4 linked regions of the Homo sapiens genome follow. The protein of the gene in region 1 interacts with the protein of each later gene in a pairwise test. Each region holds a gene or a part of one and is shown on either strand. Other genes may lie near its edges.

The links.
Region 2: the proteins of RNF8 (region 1) and WASL interact in binary tests that used the Homo sapiens proteins (3 or more experiments, as listed by UniProt).
Region 3: the proteins of RNF8 (region 1) and CCDC50 interact in binary tests that used the Homo sapiens proteins (3 or more experiments, as listed by UniProt).
Region 4: the proteins of RNF8 (region 1) and ZNF346 interact in binary tests that used the Homo sapiens proteins (3 or more experiments, as listed by UniProt).

What each region holds. Positions count from the first base shown.
Region 1 is NC_000006.12:37,356,966-37,364,294, forward strand, and holds part of RNF8 (E3 ubiquitin-protein ligase RNF8), read left to right. Parts: intron 1-3,480; coding exon 3,481-3,609; intron 3,610-7,329. UniProt on the Homo sapiens protein: E3 ubiquitin-protein ligase that plays a key role in DNA damage signaling via 2 distinct roles: by mediating the 'Lys-63'-linked ubiquitination of histones H2A and H2AX and promoting the recruitment of DNA repair proteins at double-strand breaks (DSBs) sites, and by catalyzing 'Lys-48'-linked ubiquitination to remove target proteins from DNA damage sites.
Region 2 is NC_000007.14:123,703,724-123,711,052, forward strand, and holds part of WASL (actin nucleation-promoting factor WASL), read right to left. Parts: intron 5,501-7,329; coding exon 5,366-5,500; intron 3,104-5,365; coding exon 3,017-3,103; intron 2,651-3,016; coding exon 2,554-2,650; intron 935-2,553; coding exon 911-934; intron 1-910. UniProt on the Homo sapiens protein: Regulates actin polymerization by stimulating the actin-nucleating activity of the Arp2/3 complex. Involved in various processes, such as mitosis and cytokinesis, via its role in the regulation of actin polymerization.
Region 3 is NC_000003.12:191,324,457-191,332,524, reverse strand, and holds the start of CCDC50 (coiled-coil domain-containing protein 50 long isoform), read right to left. Parts: upstream 3,132-8,068; 5' UTR 2,851-3,131; coding exon 2,802-2,850; intron 2,112-2,801; exon of another isoform or gene 1-2,111.
Region 4 is NC_000005.10:177,018,215-177,025,922, forward strand, and holds the start of ZNF346 (zinc finger protein 346), read left to right. Parts: upstream 1-4,481; 5' UTR 4,482-4,524; coding exon 4,525-4,699; intron 4,700-4,945; coding exon of another isoform or gene 4,946-5,020; intron 5,021-5,492; exon of another isoform or gene 5,493-5,505; coding exon of another isoform or gene 5,506-5,560; intron 5,561-7,708.

The sequences.
Region 1 (7,329 bases):
TGGCCTCATGTGATCCGCCCGCCTGGGCTTCCCAAAGTGCTGGAATTACAGGTGTGAGCCACCACACCTGGCCAGATTTACTTGTTATTTGAGAAACAGTAGGAATTGTGCCCAGGAGGAAAGAGATAGTCTTAGTGAAGGTGGGCAAAGACAGGATGATCTTTTAGATCAATAATGTGTGTAAGCTCAAAGGCTTGCAAAACTATTGTAAATGAAAACAACCCCTCACATATGGGTCGTCAGTCAGTTCCCACGGGAAATTCAGTGTTATGTTGAGTGGTCCTGAGATTTCCAGGTAACCTCACTGCACTCTTTAACTACAGTATAGGTGAAATATCAGTAGTACCAAGGTAAATTCTAAGACCAGGCAGTGCAGGGAAGGATGTAAAAGAATGATTCCTTTTTCTGGGTTCAGAGTCTGTTGGAGGCAATGTCAGGAAAAGGCACTCTTCTACTGTTTTGGTACTGTTTTCCCCTGGCTACTCACAATGGCAGTCTGGCTGTCTCCCCTCAAGTATTAGCATGTAATATGAGATGCTTCCTCTCTTAGAGATAAAGCTACCTAAATAGAAATTTTACTGAATATGGACGACAGATAAATCCCTAGCCATTCCATTTTTAACAGATATGTGTATTCAGAGGAACTTCTATAATTAATATAATTCTGGCAGAGTGTGAAAGAACTGAAAAACTTTGTGCTCAGTGTTGGTGGAGTGATCACCACAACATTTTAAAGAGAAACAAGTGAGACTGTATGAGTTCCAACTGCTGCTCCATATTTTCCAATGGTAATACAGTCTCTAACTTCTGACCTAAAAACACCCACCCTAAAATCTTGAGGACTCATATGCAAGACCTCTTTATTCTTTCATTCATTCTCAAATACTTAACTGAACACTATGCCAGGTATAGAAACACAGTGGTAAACAAGACAGATAAAGTCCCTGCTTATCTAATTTATATTCTATTACGGGGACAGAGGGGAAAAGTAAAATAAACAAGATAATTTTGGTCTGTGATAAGTACTTCCTAATAACTGAAGAAATATGATGGGAAGCAGACAACCAACTTTAGACAGAGGTAATCAGAGTAGGCTTATGAGTAGCTGGAACATGAAAGATAAGGAGCCTGTGCAAGATCTGAGAGAAGAGTGTTCTTAGCAGAGGGGCTAAGTGAAAAGACCCTCAGGTAGGCTGGCACTTCGGGGAGATGGGCTTAAGGAACAACAACAACAAAAAAGTTTGAGGGGCTGGAGCAGCTAGTGTTGGCACTATGGTATGAGTTAAGACTAAAGAGTAGAAGGGCTCAGGACATTCAGGGTCTTATAGGCCATGGAAGGAAGTTTGAATGATTGGACAGTTTTAAGGAAAGAAGGAAAATGACCTGATTTAAAATTTTTACATTTCTATTCCAGTTACTATTATAAAGCTTATGGGGGCTAGAGTGAGAACAGAAACAGTAGGAGGCCAGGTGGTTTGGACTAAGGCTGTGGCTGCAGAGATAGGAATGAACAGACTTAGGACATATTTGAATTATAGCCCATATAATTTACCAGTGATTTCAATGTGGGGATGAGGGACAGAGATGAATCAAAGATGGCTTCTGGGTTATGGGTTGAGTAGTTGGTTGGATAGTATTGTGAATACTGAGATAAGAGTTTGTGGGGAGGAATAGATTAGGTCAGTGAGTCGTGGTGGTCTTTGAGGGACTGAGGAGGACAGGCATTCTGAAAGATTTTAAAGAGAAGAGAAGAGGGCAGTTTTAGCTAACTTTGGTTTAAAGTTCCCAGTTAAGGTTGTGATATGGGACATTAAAGAGGTCGTTTGTGCACTAAGAAGAATATGCAGGGAGCCGGGCGCGGTGGCTCACACCTGTAATCCCAGCACTGTGGGAGGCTGAGGCAGGCAGATCACTTGAGATCAGGAGTTCGAGACCAGCCTGACCAACATGGTGAAACCCCGTCTCTACTAAAAATACAAAAATTAGTTGGGTGTGGTGGTGCGTGCCTGTAATCCCAGCTACGTGGAAGCTGAGGCAGGAGAATTGCTTGAACCCGGGAGGCAGAGGTTGCAGTGAGCTAAGATCGTGCCACTGCACTCCAGCCTGGGTGATAAAGCAAGACTCTCTCAAAAAAACAAAAAAAAATTAACAAACAAAAAAGAATAAGGGAATTCTGTGATCTGGAACTCAGAAGAATTTCATTTCCTTCCTTCACAGGGTTGTTATGAACTAGACTGGTCCAACAGGAAAGTATGATAGATGTGAACTGGGGCTTCTTTTCAACCTTTTCCGGAAGCTCTCAAGCTGTTCTTGTGGATAAGACAGAGAATATGTACTCCAATGCAAAGACTTTTGGTTGAATTATAACTGGCTGAAGGTATATCCAGATGGTGTGGGTTAATGTTTACTAGGTTTTCCTGAAAACTTTGCCTTTGGCTGCATCCCATTCTGTGTCTTGAACGAAGGTATAGAAGGCATCATCTCATAAATTTGGTGGAAGAGATATTAAGTATGTCTGATCTGATGGCAGATTAAAAATTCAGAAAGGTCTTGACAAATTGGTTTGATAGGCTGAACTAGCAAGATGAAATTTAATAGGAATCAATCTAAGGTCCTGCGCTTGAATCCAAGGTTTTCCATCCAGTCAAGTATAGAGCAGAAGAGACAGGACTTAGGATAGCATTTCTTGGAGGAGGGGGAGACCAAGAAATTTAATCATTCCTAAGTTCGAGGATACACTGGCAGTGTACTAGATCTGCTATGAAAGCTAATGCAATTTATATGCTCCAGTGATAATATCTAGAACTGGGAAAGTAACACTTGCGTTTGACTGTGTAATAGAAATTAAGTTTATTTTTCTTAATATGCCATCCAGGAATAAAGATAAACCAGCAGTCCCTTCACAGACTCATTAGAATGGCAAAGGCTCAAGCCCATCCCCTGGGAGTTAAGTTGAAGTAACTGGGAATACAGAACCAGGAAAAGAGAAAACTCAGTGTTCACTTTATATCTGTGCCATTGAAAGGGGATTGGAGATTTCCCGATGGTGCCCAGGGCAAAGCCAGGGCCAATGGATGGAATTTACAAGGAGAAAAATGCCAAGTCAGAGACATTTTAAAAATTGGAGGGCCTGCCTTATGTAAAGTTACTGACAGTATTTATGCGTTGATGGGATGTGTAGAAAGAATTCCTCTATCTCATAGTCATTGAACCAGATGACCTTTCAAGATCTTGGCAACCCTGAGATACATGGATAACTCTTTTTCAGCTTTCTCTTGTTGTCACAACCGTTTGCCTTTTTCTACTTGGTGGTTCTCAAGACAGCTGAAGAGGAGATAGCTGATGCACTGTTTTGGTTCCACAGGTGTCTGGTTTCTTAAGTCAGGACCTGCATATGCTGCTGGTTGATGAGATTTGTAAAGGACCTCCCTTTTCAGCACAATGACTGATGGTATTTCTTGCATTGTTGTTGTCTCCCAGGTGACTGTAGGACGAGGATTTGGTGTCACATACCAACTGGTATCAAAAATCTGCCCCCTGATGATTTCTCGAAACCACTGTGTTTTGAAGCAGAATCCTGAGGGCCAATGGACAATTATGGACAACAAGGTACAGGAATTCACAGAAGCCTAATGACTTTTATTTGTTTTTAAATTACTTTTTTTTTTTTTTGCATAGGTAATTCATGGTATAAAATTCAAAAGTATAACTTCTTCTTTCCTAGCCATCCAGTTCCCTTTTCCAGAGGCAGCCACTTCCATATGCTGCCAGAGATTCGATTATGCTAAAATAATTTCTCTTGATTTGGGTTAAAGTTTGTTAACTTGAAGAGAATACCTGAATTGGGGTAGTAGGTCCTATTCCAGAAACTAGACTAAGTTACTGGGCAAATAAGCCTGTTTGAGGTGAAGCTCCCAGAGACCCTGGGAATCTGCAGAATCTGCTGACGCTTCTGGAGTACACTTATGGCTCAGTGGACAAGGGGAGGAGGGAGAAACTGATCTGATTGCGCTTAGCTCCTTTCCTTCCTCACTCCTTTCAATCTGAGCAACCTCCCCTGGCCTTTAAAACATGTTTTAAATATTGGTGTTCCGAAGATTTCCTTTGAATAATGGGTTTTTCTCCTTTAAACAAATTTGAAAACCACTAGTTTAGTGGTAAATATATTGAGGGAGGTGCAATAGTATATGAAGCCCAGCAATTAGAAAGTACCTAATGTGCTGGGTGTGGTGGCACATGCCTGTAGTCCCAACTACTGGAGAAGCTGAGGCCAGAGGATTGTTTGAGCCCATGAATTCTGGGTTATAGTGTGCTATGCCATTCTGGTGTCTGCCTTAAGTTCGGCATCAATATGGTGTCCTCCTGGGAGCAGGGGACCACCAGTTTGTCTAAGGAGAGGTGAACTGACCCAGGTTGGAAGGAGGGCAGGTCAAAACTGCTGTGCTCATCAACAAAGGGATTGCACCTGTGAATAGCCACTGCACTCCAGTGTGGCTGACATAGTGAAGCCCTGTCGCTATCAAAAAGAAAAGAAGATACCTAAAGTGCAGATATACAAGCACCGAGGAATGTGATGAAAATACAGACTATGAGGTGAGAGAAATTCTAACATAAACAGTTAATGTTTAGGAAGTATAACATGTCTTTAAGTGCCATTTCATATTGCTTCACTGCCCCAGTTAGGATTTTAAAGGTACCATTAGAAGGGAGGGTATCCCACAGGTCTGCCTGCCATCCTCATATTGCGTGCATAAAACTGCTAGATTTAAGCTGTTGGAAAGTATCTTCCTGCTCTAGAATTAAGTTGAGTTGGCACTGTATTGAAGGAGACAGTACATAAATGCTAAGTAAATCAGTTCAGCACTTTTAGCAAGGCACCATGAGCAGGATAAAAATTGGCACTGAGATTATCTACTTTAACCCCTTATGTAGACAGATGAATCTGAGGCCCAGAGAGATAAACTGTCTTGCCCAAAGCCTTCTCTATAATGAGCCAGGACTTAAGTTTCTCTGCTATGCCCTGTGTCAAGTATCAGTAAAGTATGTAAGCAATTTGCTATACTGGCTTTATGACGTCAAACAATTAATTATGCATATTTAAAATATAGCTGCAAGGTTTTAAAGCCTCTGTAATAGCGTATATCAAAACAGCTTAGGAAAAGATGTTTTCCTCATCAGAGTAGGCTGTATGAGAGTTAGGATTACAATATTATAGAGGTGAGTTCTCTGCTGCTGCTTTTCTTAATTATGTGCAGTGTAGATGTGATCCACTTATGGGATTAGCAGATTTTCATAGGTTGGGAAGCCAACAGCTGATCAACTTCAGTGTTATTTGAATTTCAACCACAGGGATACAGAGGCAGCCTGTGCAAGATCAGATCATGACTGTGCTCCGGGCTCACTCTCCAGTGTTTGCTTTGTACCCTTCCTTCTAGGGTTGCTGTTATCATATGATTCTTCTCAGGTCTCAGTCAGGCAATAGAGAGGAAAGATAGGTTTCTTAACAACCTGTTTAAACTTTTTAGCTGTGATTGTTTGTGAGATAACTGATTTAATTTTAAGAGAAGCTAGGACTGGGGTGTTTTGATGGAACAATTCTTACAAGTAAATCCCCCCTGCCCCCTGCACTTTTCTTTTGACTACAGATGCCCCCTTTCTGGCTTCCTCCTGGCATGATGCCATGGCAGCCCTCTTCTGCTGATAAGAGACCTGAATTTCAGCTGTAGGGTATTATTGCTGTGGTTGTGTTTGAAGTCATTTGCCAAATCTTTTTCAAGAGATAGGTGTTTCTAACAAGTTAAAAACTCAGAGCTGCATTCTCTTATCTGCTGGAATGGCCAGAAAGTGAGAGCTTAAGTATAGATACAAAAATTGCAAGAAATGTTATTTTGGTTTAAAATTGGCTTAAAATATAGAAAAAAACCTTGGAGGACAGCTAAGTCTGCACACAGTATGAGGATGGTTCTAGTTGTGTAGGTTTTGGTCAATTCATAAGCTTTTCAGATGGCCCGTCCTTTGTATTGGTATCCAGCTCTTTCAGAAAATTGGTTGTTTTAAAGTCACAGTATGAAATGCCTTAGAGGTTCAGTCACGTCTTACTTGAGCCTTTCCCATTCTTACCCTCCTCTCCTGTTGCTTTTCACCTGCTGCCTGGTGATTCCTACCTTTGTTCTTCTGCAGACTCTGGCATTTGAAGTCCCTGTTGAGTGTACTCTTACGTGAACAAAGTTTGCTGTTTGGGACAGTTCAGCTTCTGGTCCTCCAGCAACTAGAGCAGTGGTTATCAACCCTGTTTCCAGTTTTTACTCTCACCTGGGGCACTTTTTAAAAATACTGATGGTAGTACAATAAAAGCGTTCATTCGTCAAAAAACACCATTAAGAGAGTAAAAGGCAAACTCAGAGGAAGATGTTTGCTACACATTATAGTCAATGAAGGGTTTATACTGAGGTATCTGCAGAACTCCAATAAGAAAAAGACAGATATGCCCTATTTAAAAATGAGCAAGAGACAAGCACTTCACAAAAGGTTCTATCCAATGAAAAGTTGTTCAACCTCATTAATAATCTGGGGAATTTAAATTAAAACCATAATGGAATACCTCTACACATTCACCAGAGTGGCTAAAATTGAAGACTAGTGATGCCAGGTATTGGTAAGGATATGGAGTGATAGAATGTTCTTACCCTTCTGTTGGGAGTGTAAATTGGTACAATTTGGGAAATTATTTGGCATTATTCATTAAAGTTGAACATACATATAGCTCTTGACACAGTATTTTCACTCCCCGGGAAACAGCCCAAATGTCCATCAACAGTAGAATGGATAAATTGTGGAATAATCTTATATTGAAACACTATACTATAGTGAATATGAATGAACTACTATATCTAATAACATGGATAAACCTCACATAATATTGAGTGAAAGAAGGCTGGGCGCTGTGGCTCACGCCTGTAATCCCAGCACTTTGGGAGGCCGAGGCGGGCGGATCACGAGGTCAGGAGATCGAGACCATCCTGGCTAACATGGTGAAACCCCGTCTCTACTAAAAATATAAAAAATTAGCCAGGCGTGGTGGCGGGTGCCTGTGGTCCCAGCTGCTCTGGAAGCTGAGGCAGGAGAATGGCATGAACCTGGGAGGCGGAGCTTGCAGTGAGCCGAGATCAGGCCATTGCACTCCAGCCTGGGGGACAGAGCGAGACTCTGTCTCAAAAAAAAAAAAAAAAAAAAATTGAGTGAAAGAAGACAGACACAAAAGAATACATATTATATGATGCCATTTATACAATGTTTAAAACCAGGCAAAATTTACATGTGCTGTTAAAT
Region 2 (7,329 bases), on another chromosome or scaffold:
AATCACCAATAGCTGTCATATATTAAGAACTCTGTATTATGTAAGTTTTCCTTGAATAATCATTCTAGGTTCTGATAAGAGGATTTGAGATATGCTTTTAAAAAGCAGCCATTTTCTCTATCATAACAAAGTGTGCTGGAGAATGATTCTTTACCTTCATAGAGTCAGGAACCTCATTTAAATACGATGAAAGCCATGGATCCTCTCTCTCCAGAGAAAAGAACATATTTAGCACACAATTTCAGGGAGTTTATGAAGTCTAGAGTAAGAATTTCTACCCCTGAGACCTTATCTTTTACATCCTGGTATTCTGCTTTTACTCTCTGGTATTCAATGTTTTTTAAAAAATGAATTCATAATACTTCAAGTGGTCATTATCAAATTAAAGAGCATTATACAGAGCTAAATTAGTTCTAAATACACCACAACAGTAGGTGTTCATTTTGAAAGGGGCTTCATATAACACATAAGCAATGTGAAATAATATTTTGAAATAAGAATGAAAGGTAAATCTTAAAGTAGGACATTAACAAATATTCTAGACAAAATGTACTGCCTCTAGGAAAAATGTTAAGGTCCGATTGTATACTTAGTCAACTGTGAATCCAGAATTAAAATATAATAAGTATTAGTGATCTTCACCCTATGTATTCTTTCTTCATGTTAGAAAAATATCAAAGAATATTGTTTCCTAAGTCTCATCTGTCAATCATTAATTAAAAATAGGAACACAATAAACTGTATAATTTGATCATAGATACTAAACATTACTTACTAATGTATGGTACATGTTTCCACAAGGATTAACATGTAAAAGATACTAAATATTACTAATGTATGGTACATGTTTCCACAAGGATTAAACTGTCATCTAAAATCTTAAAAGATTAATAATTGTCAAAAAGCTTACCATTTGGGGGATCTCGTCTTTTCTCTGTTAGAAAATAAATTAGAAGAATATTATTAAATATATGTAAGACAACATCAACATAAAAAAATTAATTCACTAAACTGTCTTATTCCTAAATTGACATACGTGTGACTAAGGAAGATTTTTCAGAAGACCCGACATTTAAGTAGAGATCTAAATAAAATAAGTAAGGGAACAATACATTCAAAGGCCCCAAGGAGGGTGCAACATGAAAGAACATCATGAAGACTGGACTACAGTGAGCAAATGGCACAGTGAAAGGAGACAAGAAGGAAAGTCAGGGACTAGATCATGTAGGGTTCCACAGGCCATGGTTAAGGACTATAGATTTTATGTGTATATGATAGGAAGCTCTTACAGAATTTTAAATAGAGAAAGTGATATAACCTAATCTACAATTCTAAAAGTTTACTCTGGCTACTGTATAGAAAAGAGATAGTAAAAAGGATTGAGTAGCAGCAGGAAGACCAGTCAGAGAGCTAGTGTGGCAGCCCAGCTGACAGATCATGGTGGCCTGGATTAGGATGGTAGCAGCAGAAATGGTAAGAAATAGTCAGACAGGACATGTTTTTGAAGGCAGAGTCAATAGGACTCTGATAGGATTTATGAGGGACCATGGTGAGCCTGAGGGATAAGATGGAACAAATGCCTTTTACTGAAACAAGGAAGATTAGTAGAAGAATAGGAACAGATCTGAGTGGGGCTAAGGTTCAGGATACAGGACATGGATCAAATATTCTGCTCAGACCGTGTTAAGTCTAAAGGCTATTCTGCCACTTGAGTAGACAGAGTCTGAAGGTCAGGGAAGATGTGTCAGTACTGAAGAAAAAACTTTGAGAGTCATTGGCATACAGTTTTTGGAACTATAGGACTGGATGAAAGCACATGTTCTTTCTTCTGAAACTCATCTGCTTAAGATGATTTTGGAGAGGTTCCCCTTTCCTAGTCACCCTTCTCCACTTTACAAGAGAAACACCTGGTTCACTGTTGTCAAGTAATAGTTCTACTCCAATTAACTTAAAGCTTTATACTATCCTGCATTGTTCTATAATTGTTTTATATGTGTTAGAGTTGTTTCACACACTAAACTAAGTTCCTTATGGGTTTTATAGTATATAGCATTAGGAACAAAATAGAAAGACAAGGCAATGTTTACAGATCTTGTTAGCAACTCTGCTTATTTGCTTCTAAGCTTACCTAAAGTCTTTGTTTACAAAGTATAAAATACTTTTAAAACTTTACAAAAAATGCTATCACAAATGCAAAATTAAAAGTCAATATATATGAAATTTTATCAACAAAAAAGGTTATTGTATTGGGCCCTTCGGTAAATCTAAAAAAAATAGTTCTCAACAAAAATATTATTTATTTTAAGGTAAGGACCACCAAATTTTTTTGTAAATAGTAAATATTTCAGATAATAATTTTGGCTTTGAGGACCATATATCACTGTCATCACTATTTAACTGTGTTGTGACAAAAAATAGCCAAAGACAACATGTAAACCAATGAATACAGTTAAGTTTCAGTAAACTTTTATTTACAAAAAACAGGAAATGGACCACACTTGCCCCATGAGCATTAGTTTGCTGGCCTGATTTAAGTAATTAAAAAAGGGTTACCAGATTTCCTTTGTCGACGGCCCAAAAGGTCTGTAACTGCTTTTCGAAATTTTTTTGCTTCTTCTTCATTGGCAAAATTAAGAGCAACTTGACAAGTCTGAAATATTTTCATCACAAAGGGGAAACAACAGAATGTATGAATTTAGCTTTATATCATAAAAACAATGAGGAAAAGAAGTATATTTCTAAAGAACGAAAGGTTAATTTTACTAGCAGATAAGACATTATTTTATGATCTGAATAACTTAACACAAAAGCATGAAGAAGTTCAAGTAAAAGATTACTATTAGAGAAGTTACCTATCACAGCAGACACATATACTAATTTGAATATTTCATCTTCAGCAAAAAAATAAAATAGCAAATTGAATTTGATCTTTCAATAAGGTTCTATAAATAATTTGGATTAGAAAAGGCAAGCAATGAAAAAAGTAAAGATGGCAATAAAGAAAAATATGACTTACATCTCCAGCAAAGGTATGAAAATATCCTCTAGGACTATTATATACAAAGTTATTGTATAGCTCTTGTTCCCACAATAGTTTCCCATCCTAGAAAAAAGTTAAAAATTAAAATAAGAACTACCAAAACATAATCTCTAGGAATAAAACAAAGAAGATGACTCATATTAAGAAAACTGTTTATATTAAAAATAACTTTTAATGCACACATGTAACATATTTATAATATATAAATAGTGTCACATAATCTAATCAGTAATTTCTTAAAACTGAAAACACTGGATAACGTATCTTTCATAAAACCTACATATCAAGTCAGTTTAATTCAGCTAAGATATAATCTCACTAGCCAACCATTTCCAAATTCAGCTACTTGGTCAAATACATAATAACCAGAATAATTACTAGGTCATCAATGTTACATAGAAGGAATAGGATACTTTTGTACATGAACTGATTACCAAAGCACAGTTCCACCAGCAATATTTAGACAATGTACTATCAAACACTGCAGGAATACTTTATGTTCTTTTCCTCAATTTTATAGATGTGGGAGGGTCAAATATACCTTCCTTGTACTGCTAATTAACCATCTTCAAATTCTTAACTTTTGCAGAGTACCTTTCTAATTATATACTAGTATAAGTAGTATTAATCATGATGCAGAAAGAGACTGATAATTAAAATGTATCAAGGTTAAACTATGGATAAGAGTGCCATGATGGCTGCCATATCTATTGCCATAGTATAAAAAATATGTTTAATCTTAATACCAAAGGTGACGAATTATGAGTGTCCAGCAATTGGAAATAAGTGGTTAGAGAAAGATAGTCATTGCCCTATTCAGAAATGCAAGGTTCTACCTAGACCACAATTTAAAAATATGTAAAATACACTGTTCACACATTATAACCACTGCAATGGAATCCCTTTCTTCTTAGTGGAGTAGTAAGTGTATGCCATTTCTAAATAGTGCTTCTCAATGGTTATGAGAAATATGTCAAAGCACTTGGGGGTTTCTTTCAAACTACGTATGTGTTCCCCACCCCCCAGAATCACTGCCATAGTTAGCCACTGCTAGTGATTACTAGTAAGCCACTGCTAGTGACAGAAGCATGTCATATCTCTCAGCTGTCTTGGAAGCAGACATTAAGATGCACTAATTTAGCCCGGGACTGGTGGCTCAGGCCTGTAATCCCAGCACTTTGGGAGCCTGAGGCAGGAGGATCACTTGAGTCCAGGAGTTTGAATCCAGGCTGGGCAAAACAGCAGAACCCATCTCTATAAGAAAATACAAAAATTAGCCAGGTGTGGTGGCATGCACCTGTAGTCACAGCTACTCAGAAGGCTGAGGTGGGAAGATTGCTTGGGCCAAGGAGATCAAGGTTGCAGTAAGCTGTGCACTCCAGGCTGGGTGACAGAGCAAGAGCAAGACCCTGTCTCAAAACAACAACAACAACAACAAAAGAAGCACTAATTTACCAAATACCATAACTGAGATCTCATTTAATCTCAGTGAAATACCTCATAACAAACCAAGATGGTTATCTGATTTTACAAATAAAGCTGAGACCAGAGGTGTAAAAATCTCTTCACTGTTATCTATCAGGTCATATTAGCGCCCAAGAGTTTAAAGGCAGTTTTAGTTTTTTGTAATTAAAATCTCATTGCACTTATTGCCACATATAAATATTAATCATGGAGGCTTACTTACAGAAAGGTTTTTTAAAAAAATAATGGAGACTTCATCTTAGCAAAATATTTTTATGACAACTGTAAGAAATGAATACCTAACAAGGTATTCAATCTATAACAATGTGATTTATGATTGGAAGGGAGGGATATAAAGCTATGAAAATCTGAATATATCTATCATGAGAAACAATATAAGGAAAAATGAGTAGCAAACAGATTTTTATAGATATTGAAATGTTTTAAACCTGGGCTAAATAACAGTACATACTGAGCTAAAATATTATTTTGTTGTTACCTGAACAGACTATCTACGCTATTCTATAATGAACCAGGTGGAATAAAAGAGTTTCATTAAAAAAATACAGAGTGTAAAGAAAGCCCAAGAACCAACAGGCATAATTTAAAAAAAAAAAAAGCCTTAATGCGTGGTAGCAGGAGAAAGATAAAATAGGAAACTATTCACATTCTGGCTTCAGACATGTTCCCATTTGGTCATGATTTCCGTATGCAATATCTAAAAACCAAGCTTCACTCTTCTAATATTAGTTTATGTATAAATTTAAATATCACATATAGGATAAACAAATCTAAACTAAATTATAATTGATATAGAAAACCTAATCACCTAGTTTAAAGTGAAAGCAAAACAAAACTCACCTTAATGTCAAATATTCTTAAAAAATAAGATCTCTGTGGATTGTCCTTAACAAGACAAGCAACACCACTGCACTTCTTTGACCACATACAGTTCCGATCTGCTGCATATAACTGCACCACTGCTGAAGACATAGTCTGCAAAATATAAAATTTATAACCATTAGGTTCAAAATAATATGTAGATGATCATAGCCCCTGCTGACAGCTTGACCGCAACCACCCAGCTAAGCTGCTCCTAAATTCCTGATTCACAGAAACAAGGAAATAATAAACATGTATTGTTATTTTAAGCCACTAGTTTCTGAAGTAATTTCTTATGTAGTAATAAATAACTAATACAATAATCACATAACAATAATTACTGAAAACATTTATTGATGCTTAAAATGTGTTAGGAAATGTGTTAATCACTTTTAAATATAGCCTCATTTGTTATTACTATGATAACTTCATTTTTTACTTGAGAAACCCGACACTAAAGGGGTTAATTTGCCCAATACCACACAGCTAAATGGCAGAGCTGAAATTCCAAATCCAGGCAATTTGTGACTTCAAATCTAGCATTCTTACTCCCCCTATTACACTGTTTCCCAATAAAGTGAACACTTAAGCAATGAAGTAGTAGCATTAGTAATGGCTGACTTGTATAAAGCAGTTAAGCACTTATCTAGATAAGGATTGAGACAAACTTGAAAGCAGTATTACCACCCTGGAAGGCAGATTATAGTATCTCCTTTCTAAAGTGAGTTTAAGATTGTAAGTGATTTGCACAAGTGGCCACGCAGTTTTAATGCTATACTGAGGATATGAAAAAGATTTGAGTGACTATTGTCTCAATTTTACCAAGGATAGTCCCTAAATAGAACCCTTTCAGATGTATAGGAGGGAAGCTAACTCGTTACATGCAATGGACACTTCAGGGCATTAGGATTTTCCAGTACACCATGTTGCCCCCTTCCTCAAGACTATATCATGAAAAGGTGTAAACTAATTTTATTCTAAATTAAGTTTACTTTATAACCTAGAATGTAACTATTCAACCTTAAGTTTCTATGAAAGTGATACACACTTACACTGATAAAGCACTTACAAATCCTCTGAAAGCCATAATTATGTTTTCTGATAAAGTAATTTCACTTCTAAACTAGAAATTAAGAAAATCATTTAGAATATAATACTTCATATTTTAATATAAATATAAAAATAAAATATTTCATATAAATATATATTTTTTTAAAGAGGAAGAACTGAAATAACCTAAAATAGGAGCTGATTAAGTAATTATGGTACCTTAGTTCAACGGAATTTGGGCTCTGTAATAAAAAATAGACTACATTAAGATTTGAAGATATGCTGTTTTAGGTTTACTGAACTATGCCTGAGGGGTGCCCTTTTTTGGTAAGAGGAATTTCAAAGAACAATTATATGCACAAATCTTTTATAATTAGATACTAAATTCAGAAATGTAAGATCAGTATACTGTTAGGATCAAAAGTCCATAAAGACTTGCTCAGATAACAATGTTCAATGTTATGTTTTTAACATTACAGACCAAACTCAACCTTGAACTTCACATACAGTACTGAGTAGGACACAAAGGAACAGAAAAATTTCTGCAAGAGTCAATAAAAATTATGATAACTTAAAAACAAAAAATGTGTATCCTGGGACACTGGGTTTCAAAGAGGAGACTGAAGAATGTGGGACACTTTTTGGCCTGCTCAAAACACACTTGTGTTTGCAAGTGCACAATCTCAGGATGATAGTGCCACAGGCATCCTGCTGCCAGCACTGAAAACTTCAGAAAAATGCGTCTTGCATACACTATCTAAAGGTACCAAATACCAGGCTGAAGAATGCAAAAATCAAACAAGCAATTTGTTAGTTCTAAGGAGAATTCGCATAAAGTCTTTTTTAGTATGGTGCTGTCAAAATACATTCATTTCTAAAAAGATAGCAATTAG
Region 3 (8,068 bases), on another chromosome or scaffold:
ATGTTTCAGAAGAAATAGAGTATTATTCCTGAATATTGGCAACAGCGTTTTCCATTACAAAAAGTATACAGATGTTCCAAACACACTTTTAACCAGAAAAAATGATGTGTTGACACTTAGTTGACTTGATTCTTTTCACCTACATATGAACTCAATCATTTCCCTTTGTCTCCCAGTTTAAGAGATTTACCAAGGTATAAATACTACCATAGGTGTATGTGTGTGTGTTTTTTCAAAAGGTCTGTCCAAATGATGAATATTTTTGACTTCCTTAAAAACTAAGTAAGCAAGCATTAGATTTCAACCTAGGAAAGAAGATTTTTAAATATCCCCTTACCCTAATGTCAGCTGCTACCCACGACCTCTATTGAAATGTTCACGACAAAAGGTCACAGGGTGCCCCATCCCCTCCTAAACAGCAATGGAAACGGGCACACACTCACTGCACTATTCTTCTTAATCTCTATTGGAATCTACCCCATGATACCAAATTGAATATAAATTGTAACTGCATATATATCTATCAAAAGTTTAAATTAAAAAGTAGAGGAGACAGATACAGGGATTTTTTTGAATGGGGTTCAAAAATCTGCATCAGAATATTAAACTAATTACTACTACTAACCCTTCTCAAATGAAGTTGGAGTTTCAATATTACCACAGTCTCAATGTTTGCACATGTTTTACCCTATCAGGGGCACAAGCTTCATTCTCTTTAATTAGGATAAAGACACTGTTAGGGAGTAACTGGGCCATAATTAAGAGTTATATTAGGGAAGGATACACTTTATTAGACTTGAATACTTCTCAGATCAAAAACTTCACCACCATTAGTAGGACATTCCTAGTATAATACATCACTTCCTTTGATGATCTTGGAACTAGAAAAGTCAGATGTTTACAAAGACAGTGATCTCATCGATTCCTGACCACCTTCAAAATTAATATTTAATTGTAACTTAATGAAAGAGCCACACTGAATTTTCTTACCAATTTACCAGATTACATAAAAGAGATTGCCAAACACCGTATTACGCAAAATGAAAGCTAATTTAAATGTATTAGACTCTAGAGTGTGGAAATGGAAAAATCTTGCATTTTTATATGGAAGGTGTTTGTGGAACTCCTTGAGAAATAATATGTTAGAATACATCATTCATGTCTTGGTACGAAATCAGAAGACCTAAGGGTAATATAAATGTATATGAAGAGTTTTATGTTTTTTCACTCACATGAATAGGGGATTGGATAAAATCATAGCACCATATGATTAATACTATACATACCAGGTTTTGTTTGAACTCCAATTCTCATTCTACTCACCATGCACTACACACTGCACAAGGATCACTCTTTCTCTAGAGACAAACCCAACACATACCCACACAAAAAACCCTCATATCCAAAAGTAAAGGATAACCAGACAATCTCTAAGATAAGAACTCTCAAAAGTATGGATCCGCCTTTCCTATCGCTCAGCCTCCTTAGTCTTGACAGCAGAGTGAAAACTGTTTTCTACAGGTGAAAGCCCTAAGTCTTCATCAAAGCCATACCAGGGACGGAAAGGTAGAAAAGTATTAACGCTAAAATCTCACGCCTAAGCTTTAACACCCTTCCGGAACAGTAAGACAGAACTAGGCCCATCAGAAATTCTACATAAAATCAGTGACCACTAGTCACTAGTCTCCTAGTGCTTGAAACTCTGAGAAAGCAATCAAGCAGTCCCTCATTTTCCTGAGATTTTTGGGCTGGCCTGAGCACACACAAGACCAACGGAGTCAAATTAAGTTGGCAATAAAACAAGCGGTTCCAAGAAAGCAAAAACTATTTTCAATTCCACATCTCCAAGACGCCTCAGGCTACAGTATTCAATCGATACAAATGACATTCACAACAGAAGCCGATTTTGCAAAGCCCTTGGAACTTAGGGGTCTGCGTCAGCACTCTGGAACGTCTATGCTTCCTAGGACCAAAGAATAAACAAAGATAACTCAAGGCATAAGGCGATCCAGCACCTAAGATCTCAGCAAAAAAAAGCTAGGTCCTGAGGCAGCTAGTGGAAAAACAAGAGAAGGGAAGTCAAAAGGCTACTTGCTGTCAGCTAAAGCCAGGTCAGTACTAATCTCTACTTTCCTGGACATTGGTACAAAAAGCAATGACAAGGCCATCAGTCCCCTGTTCCCCTCGCTCACTATTGTGTGTGTGTGTGTGTGTGTGTGTGTGTGTGTTTTGTTTGTAAGAAAATGCTTATAGTGGCTTCCCGCCCGCGCAGAACACAGCCAAGACTAAACTTTTAAACCTTGAGGAAGGTGGGAAAGTCAGCCAGCCAGACGCCGGCCTAGGAAAAGTAGGGAGAGAAGGAGGGAAAGAGTCATGTTTCAAAACAAAGGCTCCACACGGAACTGAATGTCAACCCCTCTCCACTTCCCAGCCTTCAAGCCAGCCAGGCTGGGCCTCGATTTTTTAGAAGCGGAGTAAGTCAGATTCACCCGGCTCTCAGCGTCCACTGAGGCTTTGCGATGCACGAGAACACGGGCACAGCCACCTACTTGCTGGGGCTGCTGCTAGCCCCCCCCCCCCCCAACCACCCCCTTGAGAAAAAACGGGCTTGGAACGTCGGAGACTTGCCCAACGTCCCACACTAGAACCTGAATTCAATTCCTTTCACGTCCGGGCAAGGCCAACGCAGGGCGGGCACCGGGCGAGGGCCGCGGGAGCCGAAATGGCAACGCCCCTGACCTGAGAGAACCTCGGGCTGGGAGAGGGGAGGGTCCCGCGCGCTCTCCCTCCGGGGCCCTTACCTTCCTTGACTCCAGGCAGCTTGGACTGGTCGATGCTGACTTCAGCCATACCGGGCCAGGGTCCCGGTTGCCCCTTTAACGCGGGCTTCCCGGTCACCGCCGGCGCCGAGCGGGGCCCCGAGCGCAGCAGCAGCGCCGGACGCGGCGCAAAGTCCGGCCGGCAGGGCTCGCAGGCCGGAGAACGGAGCGGGTCGGGCGGGCAGGGGCTGGTGACCAAAGCAGCGGGAGACGGTCCCCGAGGCACCAAGCTGGCGGCCCAGCTGCCCCGCCGCGGCCACCTGCTCCGCGTCCCCGGCCCCAATCGATACCAAATATCCGGAGCCCGGAAATGGACCGGGGCCGTCCAGTACGGAGGGAGAGAGGAGACAGAAAGGCGGGCGGGCCGGCTGGGGGAGGGGGAGCTGCAGGTCTGTAACCGCAATTGCGAGTGGCTGGCGAGCGAAGATCAGCGCCCGCTGCCGCCTCGCTGTTGTCTCCTTTGTGCTCAGTGACGCGCCGCCTGAGGCTGGGGCCCCGCTGTGCTCCCGCCCCCGGGCCCTGCCCCCCTCCTACGGGAGGGTCGCGTCTTTAGGTGGGGGCCTTGTATCCTAAAGGCCTCAACAAAAAGGCCACACGGGTCACCTAAAACATAGTCTTTCCCGTGAGCGGTGTAGTCAGCATTCTGTGGTCTGGTTCTGGGATTGAGATTAACACAGGATGTTTACTGCATGCTTGCCTCTCTCTCATACACTCTTTTTGCACCCGGAATTAGAGGAGAGATGGTAGATGGCCATAAAAACCCCAAATACAACGTACAGAATGAAGAGCAGCTGATAAAATTCTGGGCCAGTTTGGAGTAGAGTGTGTACACAATCAGCTGGGAGAACTGAGTCATTCATTCATCAAAATCGCATGAATGTGTCTACCAAGTGTGATGTTAGGTACTGTGGGTGATAACGAGGCGTCAGACTTATCTCTGTTATAGCGCTGCACACATTGGATTGTAATTGTGACATTTCTATCTCTCTAAAATAGACAACCTCTCCTGTTTCATCTCCTGGCAACAGAATGCATCCTCCTTTTGGGAAACTGCCTCTTTCCCCACTCCTCAGAGGTGAGCTTCTCTCCCAAACGTGTGCCATGTCTGAACCTCGAGACTACCCCATCACTCTTCCCCCTTCCTCCACCGACATGGGTTCATCGAAGGGTGGCTGGGTGACCAAGACAGGTCAAACAGAATACTTTCCTGGGTACATAAAGAGTTACATATTCTGTTTCTTGTGGAAAAGATCTGCCTCTAGGAGATGATGAGGCCAAACTGAAGACAGAAGCAAAGAGAAGAGAAAGGGAGATGAAGAGGGCATGTTCTGATGTTACCACAGTAGCAAAGCAGGATATCCCCAGAGCAGCTGGCATTTCAGCAACTCCTGGATTCTGGGATCTACAACCCGCAAACTCTCAACTTATCCTCAGTTTTGCTTAAGCTAGTAATAGTTGATTTTCTGTCACTCACAGCTCAGAGTCCCAGTATGAGAGGCCACGTAGGGGAGGTTTTATTTGAACTTGACATTGAAAAGTAGGTGGATTTTAGGCTAGCAAAAATTTAGAAGACTTTCAAGGCCAGAGGGTAGCAAAGTATAGCCCACAGGCCAAATCTACGCCACTGAATTTGAATGACTGTTTTTTATATGTTCAAATAATTACATTTCAAATCACTACATAAATAGGACATAATATTTTCGACCTTGCCTCTTAAGCCTCAAAGTCTAAAATATGCTTTACAGGAAAAGTTTACCCACCCCAGTGCTAGGCAGAGATAACACTCAGCAGGTTAAATGTGGGAATAAGAAGGAAGTGGTATTAGAAAGGTAGATTTATGGGAATTTTTTAATTGTCCTGTAATCTAGTAATTTTTTTTAACTTCCTGTGGTCTAGAGAATATTTATAACAGCAGTATTTTCTGTTTCCCTCCCCAAATCTATCGTTTCTACTTCTCTACCAAGCCGTGCCTTTGGATGCCTACAGATAAATCACTAGGCCCCTTTGACCTGTGGCTTCCTGTTGTGATTGACCAATGGGAAGCACTGGCAGAAAATCAAAAGAAGGGAGGAGAGAAATATCAGAGTATTCTTCTTTCCTTTAACCCAAAATTTTGGCCACAGTCCTGTCCCTCTATGACTACAGGGCCTGTGTAGAGGCCTCTTTTCCATGGCCTCAGCTCTCATGGGTCTCTAATAAAACAATTTGTTTCCAGTGTCCCTTCAGGCCTAGAGTGTGATGGCTTCCCCTAGTTCCTTTTGGCTCACTGCAACTTCTGCCTCCCAGGTTCCAGTGATTCTCGTGCCTCAGCCTCCCGAGTAGCTGGGATTACAGGTGTGCACCACAACGCCTGGCTAATCTTTTGTATTTTTAGTAGAGGCAGGGTTTTGGCATGTTGGCCAGGCTGGTCTGGAACTCCTGGCCTCAAGTGATCCGCCCACCTCGGCCTCCCAAAGTGCTGGGATTACAGGCACGAGCCACCACGCCCGGCCTCCCCTAGTTCTCTTAACCCAGTTAATACCTCTGAAATTGTCTCTTCATTACATTCTTTTCAGTAAAATCACTTACAGTGCACCTCCTGTTTCCTACCTAGACTGTGACTGTTACAGTAAGATATGCCAAAAGTAAGATATGCTTAAAATATGATGTGCTTACAGTAAGATATGCATAAAAATATCCACATTTCTGGCCTAGAGAAGAAATGGAAACATATATAATAGCCACAACTATTGTTTAGAGAATCGGCTGCTTTCAGCAGAAAAAGTAATGAAAACCAGGAGCCCTTTTCAGGTACTAGAGCAGATGACCTGGAAATCCACCCCATAGTTGGGCTTTCCTTCTCCTACTCCACACCTGTTCTGTATAGGTCCCCAAGCTGAGCAAACAATTAGAGCTCAGCATTACAGAGTAGGCAACTTCTAGCAAAGGACTGACAGTAACACGGGGAAGAGCTAGTATCTTTTGAGTATTTATAGGGAATGAACATATGGTGAATTTCTGTAACAAGTTTACATCTTTTGGTGTCCTGAAATGTCCATTTTGCAATAAAAGAGAAAGCATAAGGCTTCTCAGGATGGATACAGATCCCTAATTTGGGGCAGATGCCAAACAAGTAATTCAGCATCAAATCACAACTTGAATGCCATAGAGAGAAATAAGGATTTTATTTATAAGGCAATATGGAGGCATCAATTGATTTTTTTTTCTAGGTGGATATTACATGATACATTTTCTACTTTTATAAAGTGAATTTGGTAACAATAAAATGCTTGGATTGGAGTAGGGAGACTTTGGTCATAAGAAATGAAAACTCCAGTTTGAAAACTACCAAATTCCACAAAAGCATCCCCCAGTTAGAGCTTACCTTACTAGAAGGTAAGCTCTGTGAGGGCAGGGGTTTATCTGTTTGATTCCCTAATATCCGCGTATCTAGAAAAGTGCTTGGCACATAATAGGCACTCAATAAATATTTGTTGCATAAATAAATAAATATAGTTATCCAATTTTATTATCAGTAAGAATCACAAATTAAAAGTAAGTTAAAAAAACAATATAGGCAAATGAATAAATTACACTGGACCTTGGCAAAACAGGAAAGGGGACCCACAGAACTATACTTCTGGAAAGAATTATCTGTCTCCTTGGCCCCCAGTGCTTCCTAGCTCATCAGCATAATATACCTAAGAGAACAGTTCCAAAAATGAGGATGCAATTAGAACTGTTATTCACTTTCACCAAGAAGACTGTATGAATATTCTAAGGTTGCCATAACAAAATACCACAGACTGAATGGCTTAAATAACAGAAATTATTATATATGTTTTTCACAGTTCTGGAGGCTAGAAGTCCAAGAGCAAGGTGTCAGAACATTTGGTTTCTTCTGAAATCCCTCTTTTTAGTTTGCAGATTGGATTAGGGCTAACCCAAATGTCTTCCTTAAAGACCCTGTCTGCAGTGCAGTCCCTCTGAATTACTGGAGGCTAGGGCTTCAACATGTGAATCTTAGGGACAGATAATTCAGCCCATAGTAGAGACTATTAGGACAATAATCCAACCGTACAGTTTAGGCCTCTTTACTCCAGGCCTTGAAGCATTTTTGTCTGGACTCTCATAACATATGTAAGTTCCCCAACCCTATTCATGCTCTCAACTTTCCTCAGTTGCTCAAGTCCCCTCACCCTATGGAATTCACTATCAGTTACTCACAAAATTCCCCATATCTCCTTTGTAACTATTCCCTTTCCCTTCTTTTCCTACTGGAACTCAGGGGTCACCTGGGGACATTGCTCTTCCAAGAGCCCTCTAAATTAGAGGCTGTTTCTTCTAACATACCCTAGACCCCATTGGACCTGGAGGTGCCATGGTTTTTATCTTATTGCCTTTTTTAGAACATATGTCTTTCCTATTTTTAAATATTTTCAACTTCTTTAAAGCTCATATCCTCAAATTCTGTCACCTACTACATACCCTTATTGCAATTATCTGTACACTTCTGGGTAACTTCTTACTCCTTACAGATGAGACCTTTTTTTCTCACTCTCTGTCATCACAGAACACTTGATGATTTCAGTGTATACATAAACATACAGAGTCATTCCTTCTGGTAACCTGATCTCTCTTTCCTTGACTTCCTTATTAATATTATTTTTTTTTCCTGAGATGGAGTCTCACTGTGTCACTGAGGCTGGAGTGCAGTGGCACAATCTCGGTTCACTGCAACCTCCAACTCCCAGGTTCAAGCGATTCTCATGCCTCAGCCTCCCAAGTAGCTGGGATTACAAGAGTGTACCACCACGCCCAGCAAATTTTTTGCATATTTAGTAGAGAGGAGGTTTCACCATGTTGGCCAGGCTGGTCTTGAACTCCTAATCTCGAGTGATCTACCTGCCTCAGCCTCCCAAAGTGCTGTGATTACAGGCATGAGCCACCACGCCGGGCCTTGACTTCCTTATTCTGATGAGCTTATACCCCATTGTATTAGCCTATTCTCACGCTGCTAATAAAGACATCACCCAAGACCAGGTAATTTATAAGGAAAGAGGTTTAATGGACGCCACATGGCTGGGGAGGCCTCACAATCATGGCAGAAGGCAAATGAGGAGCAAAGTGACATCTTATATGGTGGCAGGCAAGAGAGCTTGTGTAGGGGAAACTTCTCCTTTATAAAACCATCAGATTTCATGACACTTATTCACTGTCAGGAGAATAGCATGGGAAAGATCCGCCTCCATAATTCAATTATCTCCCAC
Region 4 (7,708 bases), on another chromosome or scaffold:
GTGGTGCACACCTGTAGTCCTAGCTACTTAGGAGGCTGAGGCGGAGAATTGTTTGAACCTGGGAGGCGGAGGTTGCAGTGAGCCGAGATCGCACCACTGCACTCCAGCCTGGGTGACAGAGTGAGACTCTGTCTCAAAAAAAAAAGAAAAGAAAGAAAAACTAGAGTTGAATCTCTTTGAGAGCAAGAACTATATCTTAAGCACTATAGTTTCGTTTGCACATGCACACACATGCACATACAGAGTCAGTATTTAAGCAACTGAAATGTATGCTGAACAGTAGCCAGTTCCCGTCCCTTAGCAAAGTCATTTCCCTGGGATTGTTCATCTCCCATGGCAACAATACACAGTAGGATGTGTTGGAAAATGGTTCTCATTTTCCACAAGGAGGAAATAAAAAGCCAGCCCAACAAATATAAGGCATCACCTGCACTGCCAGGTCCCAGCAAGGAGTCCAGGCCTGGGCCATTCCTGGAAGCACTTACACAAAGACAAAATAGAAAACTGGTGACAATGAAGGCTGTTCAGACCCTCAGCAGGGTAGCTCAGGACTCTGCCTCCATGGCACAGGGGATGAACCCTGACAGCACTCATTGGAGAATAAATGGACATTATTTTGAGCATGTAATTGGATTGGAGGTTGTTTTCCAATAATATGCAAAGCAACTTATATACTCCACTCCCAGTATTTGTTACATAGTATTAAAAATATCCTTGTGGGTTCTGCGACTTCGACAAAAATCCCCTGTATCCCTTGGATTATCCCTGAATAACTTATGCTATATGCAAGTGTAAGTAACTAGAACTCTTAAGATAAATAAGTAGTTTGTGACCATCCTGGCTAACATAGTGAGACCCCGTCTCTAAAAGTAAATAAATAAATAAAAAGAGAATAAATAATGTGCAGTCACTGACTTTTAGGCTGGTCATCTGGTTTTGGCAAAAGGACATAGATTTGCAATCTAAGGACCAGTGTTCAAGCATGGGCTCGTACCTAACTAGCTGTGTGATCTTCACAAAACCTTTACCTTTCCTAGTCTGTTTCTTTATCATCACTTATGAAGAAATCCCTCACAGAAACCACCCTGAGGATTAAATGCTATAATGTAGGTGCTTTGCAAACTGTAAAGCACTGCCCTGGGCTGGGTGTGTGGTTCACACCAGGAATCCCAGCACTTTGGGAGGCTGAGGCAGGAGGATCGCTTGAGCTCAGGAGTTTGAGACCAGCCTGGGCAATATAGGGAAACCCTGTCTCTACAAAAAAAAAATTTTTTTTAATTAGCTGGGCATGTTGGTGTCCACTTGTAGTCCTTGCTACTCAGGAGGCTGAGGCTGGAGGATCACTTGAGTGTGGGAGTTCAAGGTTACAGTGAGCTATGATCATACCACTGCACTAGTGAGACCCTGTCTCGGAAAAAAAAAAAAAAAAATTGTAGGCTGGGTGTGGTAGCTCATGCCTGTAATCCCAGCACTTTAGGAGGCCAAGGCGGGCAGATCACCTGAGGCCAGGAGTTCAAGACCAGCCTGGCCAACAAGATGAAACCCCGTCTCTACTAAAAATAGAAAACATAGCTGGGTATAGTGATGGATGTCTGTAATCCCAGCTACTCGGGAGGCTGAGGCAGGAGAATTGCTTGAACCCAGGAGGTGGAGGTTGCAGTGAACTGAGATGGTGCCACTGCACTCCAGCCTGGGCAACAGAGACTCCGTCTATAAAAAAAAAAAAATTGTAAAACACTGGCCAAACATCAGTCACCTACTGTATTGGAAGCTTGGAAGCTCTAGGGCCTGAGGCCTGACATAGTGCTGGTGCTCAATATTTGTAGTATAAATAAGGAAATACTTGTAGTATAAATGACTAAATTACACCAATGAGCTATATGATCTCAAGCAAGAATAATTCATATCTGTCTCTCTTTGGCCTCCTCTGATATTACTTTCCTCCTTGTTCACTGGGCTCCAGCCATGCTGTCGTTTTTCCTGTTCCTCCAACACATCATGCTCTCTCCTGCCTCAGGGCCTTTGTACCTGCTGTTCTCTCTGCTAGAACACTCTTGCCCAGCTCTTTGCATGGCTACGCCTTCTCATTAATCAGGTCTTAGCTCAAATGTCATTTTCCCAGAGGCTTCTCCTGATGCCACCCTGATTAATGTTCCTAACACATCATTCACCTGAGATGCAATCCTGTTTTATCTTCTCCTTAGCACTTATTATTGTTAACTTTTTTTGTTTTTGAGATGGAGTCTCGCTCTGTTGCCCAGGATGGAGTGCAGTGGCACGATCTCGGCTCACTGCAAGCTCCGCCTGCTGGGTTCACACCATTCTCCTGCCTCAGCCTCCCGAGTAGCTGGGACTACAGGCGCCCGCCACCACGCCCGGCTAATTTTTTTGTATTTTTAGTAGAAACGGAGTTTCACCATGTTAGCCAGGATGGTCTTGATCTTCTGACCTCGTGATCCACCTGCCTCGGCCTCCCAAAGTGCTGGATTACAGGCATGAGCCACTGCGCCAGGCCTACTGTTAACTTTCTTATTGTACTCTCCTCCACTACAATAAAAAATACTTTACTACAGCTTCCCTGTCTTGTTCACCACTATATTTCCATGCTCAAAATATCATCTAGCTCATAGTAAATTCTCCATAAGTATTTGAAAAAATGAGGTTGAAATAAGCTAGTAATATTAAAAGCTTCATTCATTAAACAAATGTTTTGTATATACCTAGGAGGGTCCAGGTTCTATTTCAAAGTGCTGGAGATTCAGGTGCAATGACAAGAGACAAAAGGCTACGCAAGGTGGCATGTGCCTGTAATCTCAGCATTTTGGGAGCCCGAGGCAGGCAGATTATGAGATCAGGAGTTTGAGATCAGCCTAGCTAACATAGTGAAACCCCGTCTCTACCAAAAATATAAAAATTAGCTGGGTGCCGTGGCATGTGCCTGTAATCCCAGCTACTCAGGAGGCTGAGGCTGGAGAATTGCTTGAACCCGGGAGACGGAAGCTGCAGTGAGCCGAGATCGCGTCACTGCACTCCAACCTGGCGACAGAGCAAAACTCTGCCTCAAAAACAATTTAAAAAAAGAAAGAAAAGAAAAGAGACAAAAATCCCTGCCTTCCTGGGGCTTGCCTTCTAGTCGGGAGACAGACAATAAGCAAGATAAAAGGTAAAATATAAAAGAAATAAAGCAGGAAAGAAGGACATGAAGTGTGTGTGGAAAAGTAACATTTTAGATGGGATAGCCAGACAAGGTATTTTAGATAGAGTAGCCAGAGAAGGAAGTGGGAGACTGAGCCATGAAGATATATGAGAGAAATTCACCCCAGGAGGCCTGGATAACTGGGACAGGAATTAAGGAGTTGGGGACTGAGTAACACATCAGGATCAGGGAGGTTAAGGGAAGTCAGATTGTACAGGGCCTTGTTGGTCGAAGTAAGGACTTTGGCTTTTTTTTTTTTTAGTCGGAGTTTCGCTCTTGTTGCCCAGGCTGGGGTGCAATGGCGCCAGCTCGGCTCACAGCAACCTCTGCCTCCCGGGTTCAAGCCATTCTCCTGGCTCAGCCTCCGAGTAGATGGGATTACAGGCATGTGCCACCACACCCGTCTAATTTTGTATTTTTAGTAGAGACGGGGTTTCTCCATGTTGGTCAGGCTGGTCTCGAACTCCGGACCTCAGGTGATCCGCCCCCCCTTAGCCTCCCAAAGTGCTGGGATTACAGGCGTGAGCCACCGCGCCTGGCCGGACTTTGGCTTTTACTAAGAGTGAGATGGGAAGCTGTTGGAGGATTTGAGAACCTAAGCGTCATGATCTGACTTGTCATAAGAGGATTCCTGGAACTGCTGTGCTGGGAATGCCAGTGAGGTTGCTACTACAATAACCTAGGCAAGAGATGGTGGCTCCCAAAGACACGGGAAGGAGCAGCTCTGGGGTTGGAAGATAAAATTTGGGGTCTGACAGCTACATTGGAGAAGCCTATTAGCCATTCGAGTGAACTGTGGAAGAGGCAACTGGATGTATACAGGTCCGGAGTCTCGGGGAAGATCAGAGCTGGGAGCTGGCACTTGGAACTCAACAAATAGTATGTATTATTAGCAGTAATATGGAACCTTAGCTGTACTACTACTTACTAGTAGCGAGCTCTTGAGTTAACCATTTTTAGGTTCTGGGCCTCAGTTTCCCTGTGAATGAAATGGCGAAAACACTCCCACATAACGGGACCTTGAGAACGAAATGAAAAGTATCAAGGGCTGACCGTGAGCAAGGTGAGAGCCATGAGCCAAAACCACACGAGCCTCTCCGGGAGGGGGGGGTCACTGCTGCGGAATCAGCGACAGGTTTCCGAATCCACGGCACACGCTCTGAGGTACCAGAGGTAGCAAAGCAAAATAAGCGCGGGGTCCCGCACGGCAGCGCGGGTGCAGCGCCCAAACCTCGCGAGATTTGTTGGCTGGGCCAAGTACCACCCACCAAATCTCGCGATACCTAGGCGCCTGAGAGGCTCTCTACCGGTGAGGGTTTGCGGGGAAGATGGAGTATCCCGCGCCGGCCACGGTGCAGGCCGCGGACGGCGGAGCGGCCGGGCCTTACAGCAGCTCGGAGTTGCTGGAGGGCCAGGAGCCGGACGGGGTGCGCTTTGACCGCGAGAGGGCGCGCCGCCTGTGGGAAGCCGTGTCCGGTGCCCAGCCGGTGGGTAGAGAGGAAGGTGAGTCGGGGGCTTTGGAGGCAGAAAGCCCCTCGCCCGCTGCGCGGCTCGCGGGGAACTGCGGAAGCGCCGACGGTCACACCCCCTGGCCCGCCTCCTTGCGTGCTGCGCCCCGGGACCCCCAGACTTGTGCTCCCCATCCGGGCGCGGGCACCCCAAGAATCGGGCCCCCAGCGCGCTGAGGGTGAAGGGCCGCTCACGCTCAGGCCCTGGGTTTTCCTCCTCCTCCTTCATCATTCACTACAGCGCAGTTTTTCCCACATTCGAGGACTGTCATCCCTATACTCGTCCTGTCGGAGACCTACAGTCTTTGCCATCCCGGTAAGCCAAGCCGAGTGCCCCTCACCACTCCTTGACTCCCCATCGTCCCAATCTCCAGATTTCCTCCTAGGGCCTCTCGCCTCCCTTCTCTCAAGCCCCACACTTCCGAGGGCTCTGGAAGGCCTTCTCCTTACCCCCTGGGTTCCTCCTGGTCTTGATGACTGAGCCCTGGCTTACCCGTTTTTAGCTCTCTGGCCTCTACTTGCTGGGTCCCTTATTCTAAGGTGGGGACAAGGAGCCTGAGAAACTGGTCTGGGTTTGCTTTGGCTCCAGCTTCTTTGTGTCCTACACTTGACCCAAAGTTGCTGAGAACAGTGTATGCAAAGCCACGTTAGGGGTCACTCCTGGGCCGAAGCGCCCCAGCTTGCTCTGCACTTGACCTGAGACTGGGTAAGATGGGATGAAAGAAAGAGAAGGATGGAAAAGAGCTGTCCTGACCTGCTTGTGTGACTCCCTTCACTGTCCTTTACAGAGCCAGCTGCTTGATGCTAACCCAGATGTACAAGAACTCTATCTGGGCTTCTCTGCTAACCTTGTCAGGTATCTGGAGGGAAATCAGATTTCTCCAGTGATTTGTTTGCTTGCTGAGCAGACTTGTCTTCGAAAGTTTAATATGCTATTTGTGAACTGACTGCCCTGGATAAAATTGGATAAAATTGAAATTTTGACCATATCTAAGGAAGGTACACAGACCTATACCCTGGTATATACTTCTCCAATTTAAAAACAAGTCTAGCCTGTCTCCTAAGTTTATATATATATATAATGTATATTATATATAAAAAAGAAGGAGACAGGGCCCCAGAAATGGTGTGTGTGTATGCGTATATATAATATACACACACATAAATGTATATATATAATATATACACACATAAATCTGTATATATATTTTTATATACACTTGTAAGTATTTTATGTATACACACACACACACACACACACTATTTCTGGGGCCCTCTCTCCTTTTTTTTTTTTTTTTTTTTGAGAGAGTCTCACTCTGTCACCCAGGTTGGAGTGCAGTGGCACAATCACACTGCAACCTCCGCCTCCTGGGTTCAAGCAATTCTATACTGCCTCAGCCTCCGGAGTAGCTGGGATTACAGGCTGCTGCCATGACGCTCAGCTGATTTTTGTATTTTTAGTAGAGATGGGGTTTCACCATGTTGGCCAGGCTGTTCTCGAACTCCTGACCTCAAGTGATCTGCCCGCCTTGACCTCCCAAAGTGCTGGGATTACAGGCATGAGCCACCGCACCCGGCTCTCCTACTTTCACACTTGTTTGGTAGTTTCCTCCCCTACCCCAATTTTCCTTTCATTAACTTGACAAACACTCACTGATGCCTGCTCTGGACCCGGAACTGGTTGAGCTTCAGAGCTGGAGTATCAGAGGAAGATACTGCCCTTGCCCTGGAAAGGCTTGCAGTCTAGTCCAGGAAGCAGACACCAAAACAGTTCCAGTGTAATGTAAAGGATGCAGTGCTGAGGAATGTTTTAAGAGTTGGAGGTGCACAAGAAGAAAGTGACCTTTGCCCTGGATCTTGAAGCAGAAAACCACTGTGCTCTGAAAAGTGAACTGTCTGCTATGTGTATATGAGTGTATAGTGGCACTGTTATGACCCATTTCATTTCCCTGTTCTCACTTCTCCCACATTTATGTGAAATCTAGGTAGACACCTACAACATTAAGTTCTACTCACCCTTTTTCTACTCTTAGCACCTTCATGTGAGTTACAATTTATATACCATACAAGTCACCCATTGTAAGCATATCGCCAGTGATTGTTAGCCAGTGTACAGAGTTGTATAGCCATTACCACAGTCCACTTTTAGAACATTTCCGTCACCCCAATTAGTTCCTTTGAGCTCATTTATATTAAATCCCCACTCCCACCTCCTGCCCTAGGCAACCAGTGACCTGTTTTCTGTCTTGGGTAGTCTTTTGAGTTTGGCTTCTCTCAGCATGTTTTTGAAGTTCAGCCAAGTCATGGTGTGTATTAGTACTTCATTCCTTTTTATTGCTAAATAGAATTCCATTGAATGAATATAACACATTCTATTAATCCATTCATTAGTTCTAGACATTTGGATTGTTTCCAGTTTGGAGTTTTTGTGAATAGTGCTGCTGCGAACATTCATGCCCAAGTTTTTGTGTGAACATACATTTCATTTCTTGAGTATATCCCTAAGAGTGGAATTGCTGGGTCATATCGTAACTCTGACATTTTGGAGAACTGCCAAACTGTTTTCCAAAATGGCTTCACCTTTTATATTTCTGCCATCAGTGTATGAGGGTTTCGCTTTTTCTATAACCTTGACAACACTTGTCTTTTTTGATTATAGGCATTCTAGTGGGCATGTAGTGATATCTCATTGTGGTTTCCTAAAGACTGATAATACTGAGCAACTTTTCAGGGGCTGACTACCCATTTGTAGATCTTTGGTGAAATATCTATTCACATCATTTGCCTATTTTGTAATTGGGCTGTTTGTCTTCTACTGAGTTGTAAGAGTTATCTGTGTATTCTGGGTACAAGTCTTTTATTATAGATATGATTTCCAGGTATTTCCCCCTGACTGTGACTTGTTTTTTCATTTTCTAAACAGTGCCTTTTGAAGCACAAAAGTTTTAAGTTTTGATGAGATTAAATTTATCATTTTTTATCCTATGTATTGTGCTTTAGTGTC